Linked DNA regions of Homo sapiens. The protein of the gene in region 3 purifies or fractionates together with the protein of the main gene of each other region. This does not show direct contact. Each region holds a gene or a part of one and is shown on either strand. Other genes may lie near its edges. The genes, in order: CAMK2D, CTU1, ACBD6, TULP3 and UGGT1.

Region 1 (3,520 bases), on a different chromosome or scaffold from region 3:
CTGGTCTATAGAGACTGTAGTTATATATAATGAATTACAAAAACAACATAAAACTGCAAATGCAATTGATACAAAAGTAATACTTCTAAAACAGTGATGTGGCCAAAGGAGGTGACCTAACTGCAAATGTGTGTTCAGTATGTGTGTGCAGGGGCACTGAGAAGATGTCTGTAGAAACACTACCAATGACTCATACATGTAGCTAAAAGAACCTTGGCAACCAAAGTGAATGGAGGTCAAGAATACCTTTGGAATGTACACAAAAAGCTAGGATAAAAAGGCGGCCAAATAGAAAATTCTACTGATATTATTTGAGATGACTAAAAGTTAAAAAGTTATTTTTATACTGTATCCTTGAATATAAATTGTTTTCCAGATAGGTTTTATGAATGTACCCAATGTGTATACATTTTATATTACTTTTTGACTGACAAATTTACAATTTGTTATGTTCCTATAACTAGTAACTCATTATTAGTTGTCATTACTGCAATGTGCTAGAATATGCTACATGTCTACAGTTCAAAATATATAAAAGAATATGTAGGAAAAATGACAAAAGTAACATATTGTTGAAATAATTATGTACTTATAAAAATATTTTTTACTCATAAATAAAATATTTTTGTGCTTTAGGATAGGCCTACTTCCTAAACTTATTAGTTATTTGAAGCACTTTTTTTTTCATATATATATGTGAAGCTCTGAGGTAGGATTTTCCATTTCTGGTTAAATCATACCTTTCACATCTTCATCCTCAATTGTTGTATTTGAACTCTCAGTTGACTCCTGATGAGAAGAAAACACATTTTTAGGTTGCACGCAATGAATAGCTTGATTTCCTCCTTAAAAATTGGCTAGTGACATACATATCATGCAAAATTCTTCAGCAGGCTATGTGCATATGCTGACATGCAAATGGACAAACACATTAAGTGGTTTTTAACAGAAATAAAATGTCTGATGCTGCAAACATTTCAAACGGAGTACTCTGGTTGCCTAATCTCCGAAGCTGTATAAATCCAGGTGATTTGTAGAAGCAGCGGAAGTATGCAGTTTATTTTAGAAACTGTGTAAGGATGTGTTTTGTGTTACAGTGCCCTATAAGGTTTGCTTTTTCTGTGTGTCTACAAGCAATTGAATATGTTAGCCGAATGAATTTGATACTTAAAATAGAAAAAATTTCTATTCCCAATTAATTAATCAATAAAGAGTACCTTCTTTGCGTCAGGCACTATGTTAAGGCCTGTATGCCTTACACCTTTATAGGGAGAGAAAGCATTTCACCGCATCATTTAATGAAGAAGCTAAGGGGGTTAAGCTGAGATATGCTGAAAGTACTTTTGAGAAGAATTTTCATGTTTGTCCTCAGCACAATGGAATTATAATGAATAATTTACTTTCAAGGACAATTAGACTTTTTTCATTCTTTTCAAAAATAGCAACTGGCTGTTATTGATAAGAAACCTACTCCATAATAAAAAGACAAAGCTCTTTCTTTGTAAAACTACAAATTAAGTGGAAGATTGTTAAGCACACTTAAAAGTACACTGTAACTGCCAGAATTAAGATACATTTCTTAAAATGGTGTGATAAATGTGCTCATTAATAATGTATGAGTAAAATATTTTCTAGCAAATAAATTTTGCAATATTCATAAGAAAGACATAGTTTTCTACTTGGAATGATTAAATGCTAGAGCCAAAAATAACTGGAAACAAACTTCCAATCAATAGCTCAGTAATGGAAAACAGATTCTGGAAAATAATGTAAACACCAGCCAGTATCATTTTAGAGATTCAGTATTCAAAAAAGTGATCAATTTATATAAATATCATATACAATATTTAAACCAAGGGAAAAACTAATTAAAGGTGTACCCAGAGTCTCCATACACACAAAACCAAAGAAAGGAATCTTCATGCATTTCTTAATGTGACCTAGTATTCAAATGTAAGCTGAAAATGAAGGTAAACCCATGCACTGTAAAATTAAACTAATTCATGTCAGCAAGAAATATCATGCAGCAACTCTTACAAATGATATAGCTAGAACTACTGAAGTGTCCATTCCAGCTGTTATGCTTGGCGTTTCATTGGCTAATGCTATTAAAAAAATTGTTCTCATATGTGATGGTCCTGACTACCTCAAGGCTTTTCGGGACCTAGACCATTTGCAGTGTCATGACTATAAAATAAATCTCATATTAAAGAACATAACACTTCATGTTTTTTACTTTAATGGTTTTAATATTGATCAATTAAATGTTAAACCAGAGAGGAAATGTGTTTTCTGAGTCTTAAGATAAAATGTGCTTTCTAAGTCTTAAACATCATTGATAAGAGTATGGAGAAGATGCATGACTATATCTAATATTTGAGAAAAGTTTAGTATTTTTTCTTCCCTTAGAGATATAATAATATATGAAAAGTAAGAAATTGGACACATGGAATACATTCAGAAAAGGTCTTTCATCCTATAGACATGTATGCTAGTGCTGTTATTTAGTTAACATGCTATACAAATAATTTACAATGTATAGGAAACATTTAGTCTTCTTTCAACCTAAGTAGTTAAACCCCTGTTACTGGAATATATATTACTCAACAACAAACATATTTCACAAAAAGTGAAACTCCTTGATTCACCTCAAATTCATGCCAAACAACAACAACAACAACAACAATAACAACAATAACAACATCATCACCAACAAGGAATTAAGAAACCAAAAACCAAAAAAAAAAAAAACACCACTCTGACAACAGAATAGAATAAAACTCAAAAGTAACACTAAACAAAAAAAAAAACCTATAAAGTCAAGTTGATATTTTTGAAGACAATGGAATATTGCCAGAAATTCTAAAATATCATGCACAATATATCTACAGTACAAAGCACAAAGTCATGGGGAAAAAAATGACCAGATGGAATTGCTTAAGACACACAGTCATCTTGACATAAAGACTTCATTCATGTTTAGCCTGACTTTTATTGACTCATGGTAACATTAGTTTCTCTTTCAAGATGTCATTCATTTTTATTTGCAAGAAGTATGTCCATAGTTCTAGATAAATTAGGCCCAAAAGGAAGTGTGGTAGAAAATGGTTAGAATTTTCTTTCCTATTTTTAGATAACGAATTAATTTTTTTGAATATTTGATGAGATGTATAGTCTTGTTAAAGCAAGATGATGTTGATTCTTTCTGAATACCTTGTTTCCATCAGGGTTGTGGATTACAGTAGTTTGGGGCTCCTGAGTGAGAACAAAATAGAGAAAGAAACAGTTCGCATTGGTAAGTACATTCTTTCTAGTGTGAAGGACAGAGCAGAGTGAGCCAGCTGACAAAATGAAATAGTGACAAGAGCTAAAGCGATGTTAACTGCTGTCAGAGTTGCAGCTGACAATATCTCTGATGAAAGATCTCCCTGGCGAGGCCATGAGATAGGAACCTCCCTACCCAGAAGCAGCATGCAAAAGACCTTATTCTTGATCAGCATTCAAACAAGGCTTTGATATT
Region 2 (3,520 bases), on a different chromosome or scaffold from region 3:
AAAATCCCTGACTTGCAAGGTGATTTCTACCCTTTGTTTATACACTCCATTTTCAAAGGCGTAGTATAATAATTGTTGTAATAATTATTACAAAACTGGGAGCTCTTAAGTGGGTTTGTAATGACAAGGTGTGGAGCAAATCCAGTCTCCCCTAATTAATGTGGTTTACAACTTTAAGTCAATAAACATTCAACGAGATGTCGTTTGCAGTAGCAAACATGCCCAATCTCAAGGTCACAGGGCTTGGCAGGTCTTTGGGAGGTAACCATTACTACAAACACAATTAGAGCCAAGTTCTTGGAGGTTTTTTACCATATAGACCAGGGCCTCTCAACTTCAGCCCTATTGATATTTGGGGCCAGATAGTTTGTTTTTAGGGAGCTGTCCTCTGTGTTATAGGATTTTAGCAGTATCCCTGGCCTCTACCCACTAGATGCTATTTAATAGTAGTGCCCCACCCCCAACCTGACACACAGAAATGTCTCCAGCCATTGCCAAATGTCTCTGGGGGAGGGAAGGAGGGCAGACTCATCCCAGATTGAGAACCACTGATATAGACTCAAGTATAACTTGACAAGACACAGAACAAGTTTAGCTTCAATTTCATGGTGACCAGTGTGTAAATATTTCTCACTGTTACTTCTAAACAAAGATAACACAAAAACACTGCAGTGATTACAGGGGTGGTGACACATGCTAGTAATCCCAGCCGCTTTGGGAGGCCGAGGCAGGTGGATCACTTGAGCTCAGAGGAGTTCAAGACCAGCCTGGCCAACATGGAGAAACTGCGTCTGTATAGAAATACAAAAATTAGCTGGGCATGGTGGCACACACCTGTGGTCCCAGCTACTCTGGAGGCTGAGGCAGGGGGATCACTTAAGCCCTGGAGACAGAGGTTGCAGTGAGCTGAGATCGTGCCACTGTCCTCCAGCCTGGGCACTAAAGTGAGACCCTGTCTCAAACACACACACACACACACACACACACGCACAATAAAACAAAATGAAAAAAAAAAACCATAAAAAAACTACAGTCTGGGTTGTCAGAGGCTCTGTGTCAAGAACCAGTTGTTTTCTCTGGCTGCTGTAACAAATTACTTCAAATTTCACAGCTTTAAACAACACAGATTTATTATCTTGTAGTTCTGTAGATAGAAGTCTGGGAAGTCTCACCGGGCTAAAATCAAAGTGTCAAGAGTGCTGCCTTTCTCCTGGAGGCTCTGGGGCAAGGGGGTCCATTTCCTTGCCTTTTCCAGCTTCCGGAGGCTGCCCACATTCCTGGCTGATGGTCCCTTCCTCCATTTTCTTTTCTTTTTTTTCTTTTGAGACAGAGTCTTGCTGTGGAGCCCAGGCTGGAGTGCAGTGGAGTGATCTCGGCTCACTGCAACCTCTCCCTCCCAGGTTCAAGAGATTCTCATGCCTCAGCTGGGGTTACAGGTGCCTGCCACCATGACCTGCTAATTTTTGTATTTTTAGTAGAGATGGGGGTTTTGCCATGTTGGCCAGGCTGGTCTCAAACTCGTGGCCTCAGGTGATTCTCCCACCTTAGCCTCCCAAAGTGCTGGGATTACAGGCATGAGCCACTGTGCCCGGCTCTTCCTCCATTTTCAAAGCCAAGGATGGCAGTTTGAGTCCTACACCGTTTGCATCACTCTAACCTTGCCTCTGCCCTCACACCCCCCATATGCAGTAGGCGGGTGGCAAATGAGGTATCCCCAAGTTCCCCAGGGAGCTTGTGTGTGTTCCCCTCTCAATTCCTGCTGTGTCCACCTCCAGCCACCACCTAGCTGCACCACAGTGCCCAGGGGGCTCCATGGCCCCATCTCCCTCTCCCGGTCTCTGGGTCCTGGCTGTCCTATGGTGCCAGAGGGGCTCCATGGCTCAGGCTTCCCCTCCCCATCTCTCTCTGGGTCCTGGCTGCCCACTATGTTCAAAGGTCTCCATGGCCCTATCTCTCCCTTTTCTGCCTCCCTCCTCCCCTCTAAGGGTCTTTGTGATTACCTTGAGCGCACCTGGATAACGCACCATTCTGTCCCTATTGTAAAGTCAGCTGATTAGCAGCCCCAATTCAACTTGCAACCTTAATTCCCCTTTGTCCTACAACCAAACATATTAACAGGTTCCCAGAATTAGGCCATGGATTCCCTAGGCGGTGGGGGAGACAGCAGCCTGCCTACCCCTCCAGCTCTCCTGAGAATCTCGGTTAAATGCCTTAAATGCCTTCTGATTTTTGTGTACAGTTTGAATTACGGTTTTAACTGAGGCTGATAAGGTTATTAGCAGCATAATGCACTTTTACTCCCTATATGAAAGGGCAACTAGCATAAGGTCCGCTATGCAGTAGGCGGGTGGTACATGAAGGCACGCCCAAGTTGCGCCAGGGGAGCTTATGTTTCTCTTTGATTTTTTGTTGTGTCCACCTGCAGCCTGCACCTGGCTGCTTCACGGTTCCCGGAGGGTCTCCATGGCTCGCTCTTGCCCTCCCCGTCTCTCTCTGCGTCCTGGTTGCCCACAGTGCCCTAGGGGTCTCCATGGCTCTCTCTCCCCCTCCCTGTCTCTGGATCCTGGCTGTCACACCATGTTTGGGGGTCTGTCTCCATGGCTTGCTCTCCCCGTCGCCGTCTCTCTCTGGGTCCTGGCGGCCCCACTGTGCCCTGGGTCTCCGTGGGTCTCTCCTCCCAGTCTCTCTCTGGGTCCTGGTGGACCCTTGGTTCCCCGGGGGGCTCCCTGGCCAGCAGCGCCCTCCGCGCCCCACCTCACCCGCTCCCTTCTCTCCCCACCAGGTCACAACGCCGACGACATGGCGGAGACCGTGCTCATGAACTTCCTACGGGGCGACGCGGGGCGGCTGGCCCGGGGCGGGGGCCTGGGCTCTCCCGGCGAGGGGGGCGCCCTGCCGCGCTGCCGCCCGCTGCAGTTCGCCTCGCAGAAGGAGGTGGTGCTGTACGCGCACTTCCGCCGCCTCGACTACTTCTCCGAGGAGTGCGTCTACGCGCCCGAGGCCTTCCGCGGCCACGCCCGGGACCTGCTCAAGCGCCTGGAGGCGGCGCGGCCGTCCGCGGTGCTGGACCTCGTGCACTCGGCCGAGCGCCTGGCGCTGGCCCCGGCCGCGCGGCCCCCGCGCCCCGGCGCCTGCTCCCGCTGTGGGGCGCTGGCCAGCCGCGCGCTCTGCCAGGCCTGCGCGCTCCTGGACGGCCTGAACCGCGGCCGGCCCCGCCTGGCCATCGGCAAGGGCCGCCGGGGTCTGGACGAGGAGGCGACGCCGGGGACGCCCGGGGATCCGGCCCGGCCCCCCGCCTCCAAGGCCGTCCCCACCTTCTAGCGACTTCGGGCCTCCCGCCGGGATCTGATGCCGCGGGGTGGGGGCTGCCTGTAAATGACACTGTGAATAAACCCGTTACCTTACCTGGCCTTCCATGTGGGGTTGGGAAGGAGACGGGGGCCCATTCACCTGAAACCCTGAAGAAGCTGGGACCCCAGACTTCGAGGTCTCAGGGAAGAAGGGTCTCGAACTGGGCTTC
Region 3 (3,520 bases):
TTTCAGACATTTTTTTTCCTAATCGTCCTCCCCGTGAAATTTTAAAAACACAGATACAATGCATAGCTATTAAATTTTGAAAGACCACAAACCACTGTAATCTAAGATTTTATAATTTCCTCAAACAAAATTTCACCCCTATTGAGGATATATGATCTACAGACTAATAGAGATTATTCTCATAAATTAACTGTGCTTATGGCATTTTGGTCGTACAGAAACTAATCATCACATAAAAAACAATATTCCCAAGGAAAATGCATCAAACTTCTTACTAAGATACAAGAAATCCACCTTCCCTTTCTGCTGTTATCTCATCTATAAGCTTCTAGTAACTGATCCTGGGGACTTAGTCTGGGACTTCAAAAGTAAGGGATGGTGAGGGCAGAAATAAGAATACTGGCCAGGCTTGGTGGCTCACGCCTGTAATCCCAGCACTTTGGGAGGCTGAGGCAGGTGGACCACCTGAGGTCAGGAGTTTGAGACCAGCCTGGCCAACATGGTGAAACCCCATCTCTACTAAAGATACAAAAATTAGCCAGGCGTGGTGGTGTGCGCCTGTAGTCCAGCTACTCTGGAGGCCGAGGCAGGAGAATTGCTTGAACCTGGGAGGCAGAGGTTGCAGTAAGCTGAGATGGCACCACCACACTCCAGCCTGGGCAACAGAGCAAAATTCTGTCTCAAAAAAAAAAAAAAAAAAAAAAAAAAAAAAACAACAACAGCAACTAAAGAATACTAATGAGTAAGTTAGGGACTTCCTACAATATAAATGGCAAAAGCAACATTTTAGTCCTGAGCTTCCTTTTGGGTCATCTACCCCCCTGCCCCCACAACAGGCTGCCAGGACAGGCCTTCTTCTTGGTTTTTCCCTGCCAATTCTTTCTAAATTCCAACCAGTGTTTCTCGATTTCCCTGATTTGCTGTCAAACAGAACTCAATCCCACATTTTTTCACTACCTTCCTGCTTCTATGATGAATATAATATCTTTCTGAGGTTTTCTAAATTTATTTTCACTGAATTCCTTAAGAATTACTTATACGCATCATAACACTTCATCCCTAAATAGATCAGCTTACACAAACTCAGGAAATTTATCATCAATTACTATTATACAATATAGAGGCTATACATTCAGATTTTCCTGATTGTCCCAATAATGTCCTTTATGGCTTTCTTCTCCCACACCAGGAACCAATCAAGATCCACACACAGCATTGAGTTTCATGTATCTTCAGCTTTTTTGTCTTCCACATTGTTGGTATTTTTTAAGAGTCCAACTGTTTTATAACATATCCCTCAATTTGAATTTGTCTAATTGTTTCCTTACCTACAGTGTTCTTGCCAAAAATGATTAATCATGATTAGAATTGGGTTAAATTATTTCAGCAGAGTAATATATAGGTGACATGCCCTTTTCAATGCATCACACTGGGGGCACGTGATGTTAGTCTGTCCCATCATCAATAAGATTCATGGTTTGGTAACGGCAGTAACTGTCAGGTTTCTCTCTCATAATTAAAAAGTAAATGGTGGGTCAGCCTGTAACCCACGGTTTTGCTCCCCAATAGTTTTTCACCTAGCATTTTAACAAAAATTTTCCTCAATAGTTTTTCTCTAACAGTTCCCCAATATTTTATCATCTAATATTTAATCATTCGTTGATGTTCTTGCATAAACTATTATTATGGTGGCTATAAAATCTAAATTTTTTAATTGCTAAAAACAATGGAGAAACAGGCAAAGCACAGAAAAAAATAAAGGTATAAAATTTCATAAATTATAACAAAAAACTCACTGTCAACGTTAACATCAGGTATTCTTTAGAACAGTAATAATATGTTGGCTGGTTATCATCAACCAAAAAACTTGTGCAAGAATATAATCAATGCACTGCTTCCTTCACTGAGACTGTCCTATACAAAAAAAAATCAGCTGAACTAAACAGCGTGGTTAGTGACATACGTGATTTATATCTGGGTTCAAGCTCTGTATCTCCTAACAGTTGGGTAACAAACAGTTGGCAGGCAGGAAATGTATCCAGGGGACCAGATTTTATGTGGGACTGCTCTAGAATGTAAAGTAAGAACCCATATTTTATCACTTCCTCTCTCTATAACCATATTTTATCTTTTTTCTTTTCTAACTCTACCTTCTAACCTTAATTCCAGGGCTGATGCTCCAAAGCCTTCCCTTCTATAACTAAGATTCCCAGTTGTATGCAATTTCTCTTCTTTCACTTAGACAAGGTAAGAGAAGATAAGGTCTCATAAATGACAAGGGGGAACTTCTGAATTATAAGTTAAAAAAGTTTGCAAAAGTATACTCTTTTTTTTATATATTCAGAGAAAAAGAGAAGTTAGTATCTGGTTTTGGCTTTTCACTGAATTTTTCCCTTCTTCCCAAGAGTACTATAAGCAGTTATTTACTGTGGCATGGGTGGGGCAAGGAACACAAGAGTAAGTAGCAAGAGACAGGGAGATAAAACTGGGACAAGGAAGATGGGTGAAAAATGGGGATTTATCCTGCTCTTCTGCCCTTCCCATCATTCTGGCCTTCTTCCAAAAATCCCTCCAGAGGGGAGAAGTGGTGATCCATTAGGGGTTGAATGACAGGAAAGGAAAATCTCAAGCAATAGCTCTCATGGTATTAAAATGTAAGGCATGTATGTCTGTTGTGAACCACTTATATTCCAACATGCTAGCATAAGAATCCTTCAGGAGACTTAGCTAAAAGTAGATTTCTTTAATCTCTCCCAATTGCCTGTCATTAGTACAATCTACAGCAGAGAGAGAGATTAATATAAAAATAATTCTTTAATCAGCTCACTGCTTTCTAATTCCTAAACACCTAAGCCATTTCCAACAACCTCATTAAAGATTCCAGGAATTTCTTACCATTTTTGCTTTCCTTCAAAATCAAAGAAGCTTGGTTTAGGAGTATTACAATTTCCAACTTTGACCTAAATGAGGGAAGGAAAATCAAGAACTTATTTTTCAAAGAAATGTCTGGGAAACTTTTCCTTTTCAAATGTATTATGTATATTCAGTAACCATAGGTTGGAAAATATTTGCATCTATATGGAATAGCAAAATTTAACATTCTTTGCCAAAGCAAACAAAAACAATCAAACAGAATCAAACATTACATACAGCCTACTTTGGCTTACTGCATAAAACAACTATTATCTAATACTGTAATACAGAAAAACTGTGATAAACGGTTGCACTTCGAAGTTAGTAGACTATATATAAGACAAGTTATCAATATAGATTAAATACTCTTTATTACCATGTATAAAGTAAAAGAATTTTTAATATGAAATTAATAAGGTTTAGAATTCATAATTTATCAGAATTCATAACACTGTTTCTTCATGCTGATTCTCATAACGCTATTAGCATTTTAACTCTCCAAAATTCCAGGGAAAACAGTGTACTACTTTTAAAGTACCCTATTATGAAATTCATCAATATAAATTTGGATGCCAAAAGCCATGCAAAAAATTTCATGGGTTCTCAA
Region 4 (2,894 bases), on a different chromosome or scaffold from region 3:
TCTTAGGAGGGTCGAGGCTGCAGTGAGCCGTGATCACACCATGCACTCTAGCCTGGGCGACAGCATGAGACCCTGTTTAAAAAATAATAATAATCGGCCAGGCGTGGTGGCTCACGCCTGTAATCCCAGCACTTTGGGAGGCCGAGGCCGGTGGATCACCTGAAGTCAGGAGGTGGAGACCAGCCTGGCCAACATGGCAAAAACCCGTCTCTACTAAAAATACAAAAAAAATTAGCCAGGCGTGGTGGCAGGCACCTGTAATCCCAGCTACTCGGGAGGCTGAGGCAGGAGAATCGCTTGAACCCAGGAGGCAGAGGTTGCAATGAGCCAAGATTGTGCCACTGCACTCCAGCCTGGGTGACAGAGCAAGACGCCATCTCAAAATAAAATAAGAATAATCTGCTTGGCTTGACAGGCATTTTTAATACCTAGTGCAGGCCTTATTTAACCACAACTAATTTTCACTGTATGTAATATAGTGCTATGCCCTCACTGGGAAATAAATATGTGTTGGTGCTGACAAAGTTGAACAGTTTGTTCACAGTTATCTCAAATCACATTTAAGACTCAAGAGTAAGAGGCCGGGCGTGGTGGCTCACTCCTGTAGTCACAGCACCTTGGGAGGCCAAGATGGGCGGATCACCTGAGGTCGGGAATTCGAGACCAACATGGAGAAACCCCGTCTCGACTAAAAAAAAAAAAAAAATACAAAATTAGCCGGGTGTGGTGGCGCATGCCTATAATCCCAGCTACTCAGGCTGAGGCAGGAAAATTGCTTGAACCCGGGAGGCGGAGGTTGTGGTGAGCTGAGATTGTGCCATTATACTCCAGCCTGGGCAACAAGAGTGAAACTCTGGTCCCAAAAAAAAAATAGTTAAGAGTAAACTCTCAAGCCAAGAGATTCTGTTTTAAATGTAGGTGTTTAAAGAAGGTATAGGCCAGGTGCAGTGGCTCACGCCTGTAATCCCAGCACTTTGGGAGGCTGAGGCAGGCAGATCACGAGGTCAGGAGATCGAGACCATCCTAGCCAACTTGGTGAAACCCCGTCTCTACTAAAAATACAAAAAATAATTAGCCAGGCGTGGTGGCATGCGCCTGTAGTCCCAGGCTGAGGCACAGGAATCGCTTGAACCCAGGAGGTGGAGATTGGAGGTTGCAGTGAGCTGAGATTGTGCCACTGCACTCCAGCCTGGCGACAGAGCGTGACTCTGTCTCAAAAAAAAAAAGAGAAGTATAAAGAGATATAATATTACTTTCCTGTTTTTGATTCTGTTTACAGCAAAGTAATAAAATTATTTTTGGTACACCTGATTTTTTTTTTTTTTTTTTTTTTTTTTTTTTTCTGAGGCAGAGTCTCACTCTTGTCGCCCAGGCTGGAGTGCAACGGCGTGATCTCGGCTCACTGCAGCCTCTGCCTCCTGGGTTCAAGCAATTCTCCTGCCTCAGCCTCCCGAGTAGCTGGGATTACAGGCGCCTGCCACCACGCCTGGCTAATTTTTGTATTTTTAGTAGAGACAGGGTTTCACCATGTTGGCCAGGCTGGTCTCAAACTCCTGACCTCAGGTTATCTGCCCACCTCGGCCTCCCAAAGTGCTGGGATTATAGGCGTGATCCACTGCCCCGGCTGATACAGCTGATATTGTCAGCATCTTACATTCCCAAGAAAGTCTCATGTTATAAAAGAATGTGGTCTCTATTTTTTTCCTGTTTCCAAGTTCTGCTTTGTTTTCCTATCTTCCAGGAAACAAACGTACTTGGATTTAAAGGTCCTAGGAAAATGTCTGTGATCATTCCTGGAATGACACTGAATCATAAGCAGATCCCCTATCAGCCACAAAACGTGAGTAAGAATGTATTTAAATCAGTGAAAGACTCTAAAAGACAGTAGTACAATACACAGAGATTAATACAAAAAAAAAAAAAAAGATTGAGCTTCCAGAGCCCCACACTGGAGATAGCTCCATACACTTCTTTAGGAAAGCTGCCCCTCCAAAACCTCAGGATAAGAGCAGTTGCAGAGTCATTGCCTTGAAACCATTTTTTCTACAAAGAGAAATGCTGGATGATGTAGAATAATTTTAAAAAAAACCTGTCTTCATTGTTGGCTTTCATTCTTCGCTTCTGGTTTACCCTTTCTGAAATGGAGAAAGTATTCTCCTACTCTACCTTCTACCTCGTAGAGTTGGAGTTCTCAGTACAAAGTAATGATTTTCCCTTTGGACAGAACCATGACAGTTTGCTCTCAAGGTGGCAGAACAGAACTATGGAAAATCTGGTTGAGCTGCACAACAAGGCCCCCGTCTGGAACAGTGACACTCAGTCCTATGTCCTCAACTTCCGTGGCCGGGTCACTCAGGCGTCTGTGAAGAACTTCCAGATAGTCCACAAAAATGACCGTAAGCCTCCAGGAGGGGTTGGGTGGGAAGAGGAGGACAGATGCTCTTACAGGATGGGAATGCACATTCCCTGTACATGATAGGAAGTGACAGTCAGCAGATAATCATGGAGGAGAGACAGGATTTCTTTGGAAAGATGAAACTACAGTTTTAGAGAAAACTTGTAAATCACTGTGTTGAGGAGGGGAGAGGAGTGTGAGAGAGATGCTATAGCAAATCAGAGAAGTTGGCTGGGCACCATGGCTCACGTCTGTAATCCCAGCACTTTGGGAGGCCGAGGTGGGCAGATCGCTTGAGACCAGCCTGGGCAACATGGTGTGAAACCCCATCTCTACAAAAAATAGAAAAATTAGCTGGGCGTGGTGGCAGGCACTTGTAGTCCCAGCTACCCGGGAGGCTGAGGTGGGAGCATCACTTGAGCCAGGAGGTCGAGGCTGCAGTGAGCTGAGATTGCATCACTGCTCTCCAGCCTGGGTGACAGCAAGAACCTGTCTCAGA
Region 5 (3,520 bases), on a different chromosome or scaffold from region 3:
AAAGAGAGAAACAAATACTGTTGGGTGATACCATTTTTGAACTCAAATTATTCCCCAAAATAATTCTGCAAAAACAACGCCTGACACACTACAGAAGATAAACAAATATGTGATAGACAGTATGAACAAAAGAATAACAGAAATAATACAACAGAATCAGATCCATAGTAGCTCCATAAATTAGAAGATACCAGGTATCACACAAATTTTAAAGTAAGTAGAGCCGGGCACTGTGGCTCGTGATTGTAATCCCGGCACTTTGGGAGGCCAAAGCGGGTGGATCACTTGAGGTCAGGAGTTTGAGACCAGCCTGGCCAACATGGTGAAACCCTGTCTCTACTGAAAATACAAAAATTAGCCAGGAGTGGTGGTGCGTGCCTGTAATCCTAGTTACTCAGGAGGCTGAGGCAGGAGGATCACTTGAACCCGGGAGGTGGAGGTTGCAGTGAGTGCAACCCAGAGCATGCCACTGCACTCCAGCCTGGGAAACAGAGTGAGATTCTGTCTCAAAACAAACAAACAAACAAAAAAGTTTACCTTTTATTATTCCATTGAGATAGAGGAGAAGAAAATGAGCAAATTAAACTAGTGTTTATGGATACATGCTTAAACAGTAAATCTATAAAGAAACAAAAATGATTACCATAAAAGTCGTGATGCTAGACACTTTTGTTAGGGAGGAAGGATGGCTTCTGGGATGCTGATAATGTTCTAGTTCTTGAACTAGGTTGTGGTATCTGGGTATTTGCTTCATAATAATTCCTGGATGTATGTGAATATGTATGTATGTTTTTTGTATACTTTTCTTTATGGATGCTACATATCACAATAAAGGTTTAAAAACATTTAAGTAGACTTAAGCAAAATAAAATGCTTAAAATATGTGAAATATGTATCCAAAACCCTTAAACTACAATCTCACCTCTGAAAAATGCTTAACATTAACAAACAGTAATTTAGCTAGCCTTGAAACACATCATGGTTTCTGACATAGAAAAAGGGGAAGCTGTGATACTATACTGTGATTCTATACTACGAATCCTGAGCTATTTAGTTCCTACAGCAGAAAAACAAACTGACCCTAGTAGGTAGAGAAACAAACCTATGAGATTAGTTTGAGTACAAAATACAAAGATATGCTAATGGTTCAGAGAGGCAGCATTCTCCTTCCATCTCTCTCCCCAGCCAGCATCAAATCTATGACATTTTTCACGCTGATATGTCTTGAGGGCAGATAAAAATCTCTCTCTCTCTCTCTCTCTCTCACACACACACACACACACACACACACACCATGAAAAAACAAGACGCCATCCTGTGAGGAGAGGACTGAAGACACAAGTAATACTTCATTTTCTGATGCAACACTGTATACCCGTCACTCACAGTTAACCATAAAAAATGGACACTTACTTGATCAAGATTTGAAAGGCTGTTAGGGTCCTGACTCAGACCTTGGTACTGTCCCCTGAGTCTGTCACCAGCAGCTATTTTCCTAAACTTCTTCAGATCCACAACATATAGTGCACTGAATAAAGAAGACCCGCTTGTTACAACCAACCATGGATTACGACAGGAAAACTAAACCCAATGAATAATGGAACAGGCCACTAGCCAAATATTCTGGCTTTTCTTTGAAAAGGTATGCTACAGCCCTACAGTGGAGTTAAAGTGTGCTACTTTAAAGATCTCTAAGAAAGTCACTGCAAAATCTATACTGTGCTATGCTTTTGTTACTGTTCTGTATTTGCCATCCGAAAGAAATAATCTCAGACCAAAGATTTCTAGCATATGCGGCAGTAACAAAAGCCATAGTAACTGATAAACAACCATTATTCAATGATATCCTGATGATGTCTTCAATGTTACAGGGGGGGGAAAACCCCAGAGTGTTACAGTCCTTACAGTTCTTTTGGACCAGGAATGTAAAGAATGAAGCCACCATCACTAAACCCCAGCAGTGATCTCTGCATGTGCCGCTTCCTACACGTTCCTCTTCCCTGCACATCTTCAAATCACACTTCTCGCAGAGAAGAGAATGGGGTGCTCATTAGAAATGTAACAACACACACACTGTTCGACCTAAAAGGTCTACGTCTAGGAATTTATCTCACAAATATATGAGATATGAAAAATTATTTAGTAGATTATTCATTGCAACATTGTAGGTCACAGGGAAAACTATAAATAACACTCACACACTGGAATAATATGCAGCTATGAAAAGGAATCAGGTCTCTCTCTATTCACTGAGAAGATGTATATGACATTAAGTAAAAAAAAAAAAAAAAAAGCCAAGTTACAAAATGTATAAATAGGTAGCATATTTTGTGTAAAAAAAAAAAGAATACACATTCACAGCTGTTTCTGTAAGAATTAAGAAAATCTGGAAGGATAGACAGTCAATAAGTTGGGAGGTTATCTGCTGTGAGAACAGGAACTGAGTAGGAAAGAGAGAGACAGGATTAGGAAGTTTTTTTTACACTGTATTTTTTTTTTTTTTTGAGATGGAATCTCACTCTGTCATCCAGGCTGGAGTGCAGCGGCGTGATCTCAGCTCACTGCAACCTCCGCCTCCTGGGTTCAAGCAATTCTCCTGCCTTAGCCTCCCGAGTAGCTGGGATTACAGGCGCCCACCACCATGCCCAGCTAATTTTTGTATTTTTAGTAGAGACGGGGTTTCGCCATGTTGGCCAGGCTGGTCTTGAAATCCTGACCTCAGGTGATCCACCTGCCTTGGCATCCCAAAGTGCTGGGATTAAGGCATGAGCCACTGCACCCAGCCACTGTGTATTTTTTATCATTTTTATTTTTCAACCATACCAATGTATTACCTATTCACAATTTTAACCACACAAAATCAATTTTAAGGAAAACCCCGTAACAGTGTTAGGAGTGCTTCTTTTCAGTACCTGATATGATACTTTCGCCCGGCTAAATGACTGGCCCAGTACCCTGACTTCCAGAACCTGTAGCCGTCCATTTCTCTTCGGCTGTCACAGAAAGGAGTGTAACCATAAGGAGCACCATCCAAATTGAAATCTCTTAACTCTTTCAGATCTGTTCGTACAATCTGGAGAATATAAAAAGTCATTTGTTAAGCAACCATGCAGACAGCTCTAATGCGGTTTCCTTCAGATACAGAGTGGCTCGCTTAAGGCAGCATGGAAGGCTGCTCCGTGGTTAGTGGCACAGGCACTAGGGGCAGATGCACTTTGATTGCTCCACTTATTACCTGGTTGACTCACTAACATGTAAGACACTTCTTAGCAAGGTGTGTGGGAGTAGGAATAAAACAAATTTCAACTGCTTAGCCTTTCTGTGCCTCAGTTTCTTCATCTGTAAAATGGAGATAATGATAATGACAGTACCTATCTCACAGGGTTGCTGGGAGGATTATGTAAGTTAACATATGGATGGACAGATGTAGAATAATGCCTTGCCCATCGTAAGTACTCAACAAGGATTAAATGTGGCTATGTTACAATCAGGAAGGCACACTTCAGGCTAAGCCAGTGGA

What was found.
Region 1: the proteins of ACBD6 (region 3) and CAMK2D purify together in Homo sapiens (pull-down; one study listed by IntAct). This does not show direct contact.
Region 2: the proteins of ACBD6 (region 3) and CTU1 purify together in Homo sapiens (affinity purification with mass spectrometry; one large-scale study listed by BioGRID and IntAct). This does not show direct contact.
Region 4: the proteins of ACBD6 (region 3) and TULP3 purify together in Homo sapiens (affinity purification with mass spectrometry; one large-scale study listed by BioGRID and IntAct). This does not show direct contact.
Region 5: the proteins of ACBD6 (region 3) and UGGT1 purify together in Homo sapiens (pull-down; one study listed by IntAct). This does not show direct contact.

What each region holds. Positions count from the first base shown.
Region 1 is NC_000004.12:113,499,723-113,503,242, forward strand, and holds part of CAMK2D (calcium/calmodulin-dependent protein kinase type II subunit delta), read right to left. Parts: intron 3,256-3,520; coding exon 3,214-3,255; intron 790-3,213; coding exon 741-789; intron 1-740. UniProt on the Homo sapiens protein: Calcium/calmodulin-dependent protein kinase involved in the regulation of Ca(2+) homeostatis and excitation-contraction coupling (ECC) in heart by targeting ion channels, transporters and accessory proteins involved in Ca(2+) influx into the myocyte, Ca(2+) release from the sarcoplasmic reticulum (SR), SR Ca(2+) uptake and Na(+) and K(+) channel transport.
Region 2 is NC_000019.10:51,098,402-51,101,921, reverse strand, and holds part of CTU1 (cytoplasmic tRNA 2-thiolation protein 1), read left to right. Parts: intron 1-2,782; coding exon 2,783-3,321; 3' UTR 3,322-3,520.
Region 3 is NC_000001.11:180,492,566-180,496,085, forward strand, and holds part of ACBD6 (acyl-CoA-binding domain-containing protein 6), read right to left. Parts: intron 2,961-3,520; coding exon 2,896-2,960; intron 1-2,895. UniProt on the Homo sapiens protein: Binds long-chain acyl-coenzyme A molecules with a strong preference for unsaturated C18:1-CoA, lower affinity for unsaturated C20:4-CoA, and very weak affinity for saturated C16:0-CoA. Does not bind fatty acids. Plays a role in protein N-myristoylation.
Region 4 is NC_000012.12:2,935,890-2,938,783, forward strand, and holds part of TULP3 (tubby-related protein 3), read left to right. Parts: intron 1-1,741; coding exon 1,742-1,840; intron 1,841-2,224; coding exon 2,225-2,396; intron 2,397-2,894. UniProt on the Homo sapiens protein: Negative regulator of the Shh signaling transduction pathway: recruited to primary cilia via association with the IFT complex A (IFT-A) and is required for recruitment of G protein-coupled receptor GPR161 to cilia, a promoter of PKA-dependent basal repression machinery in Shh signaling.
Region 5 is NC_000002.12:128,181,683-128,185,202, reverse strand, and holds part of UGGT1 (UDP-glucose:glycoprotein glucosyltransferase 1 precursor), read right to left. Parts: intron 3,074-3,520; coding exon 2,913-3,073; intron 1,529-2,912; coding exon 1,414-1,528; intron 1-1,413. UniProt on the Homo sapiens protein: Recognizes glycoproteins with minor folding defects. Reglucosylates single N-glycans near the misfolded part of the protein, thus providing quality control for protein folding in the endoplasmic reticulum.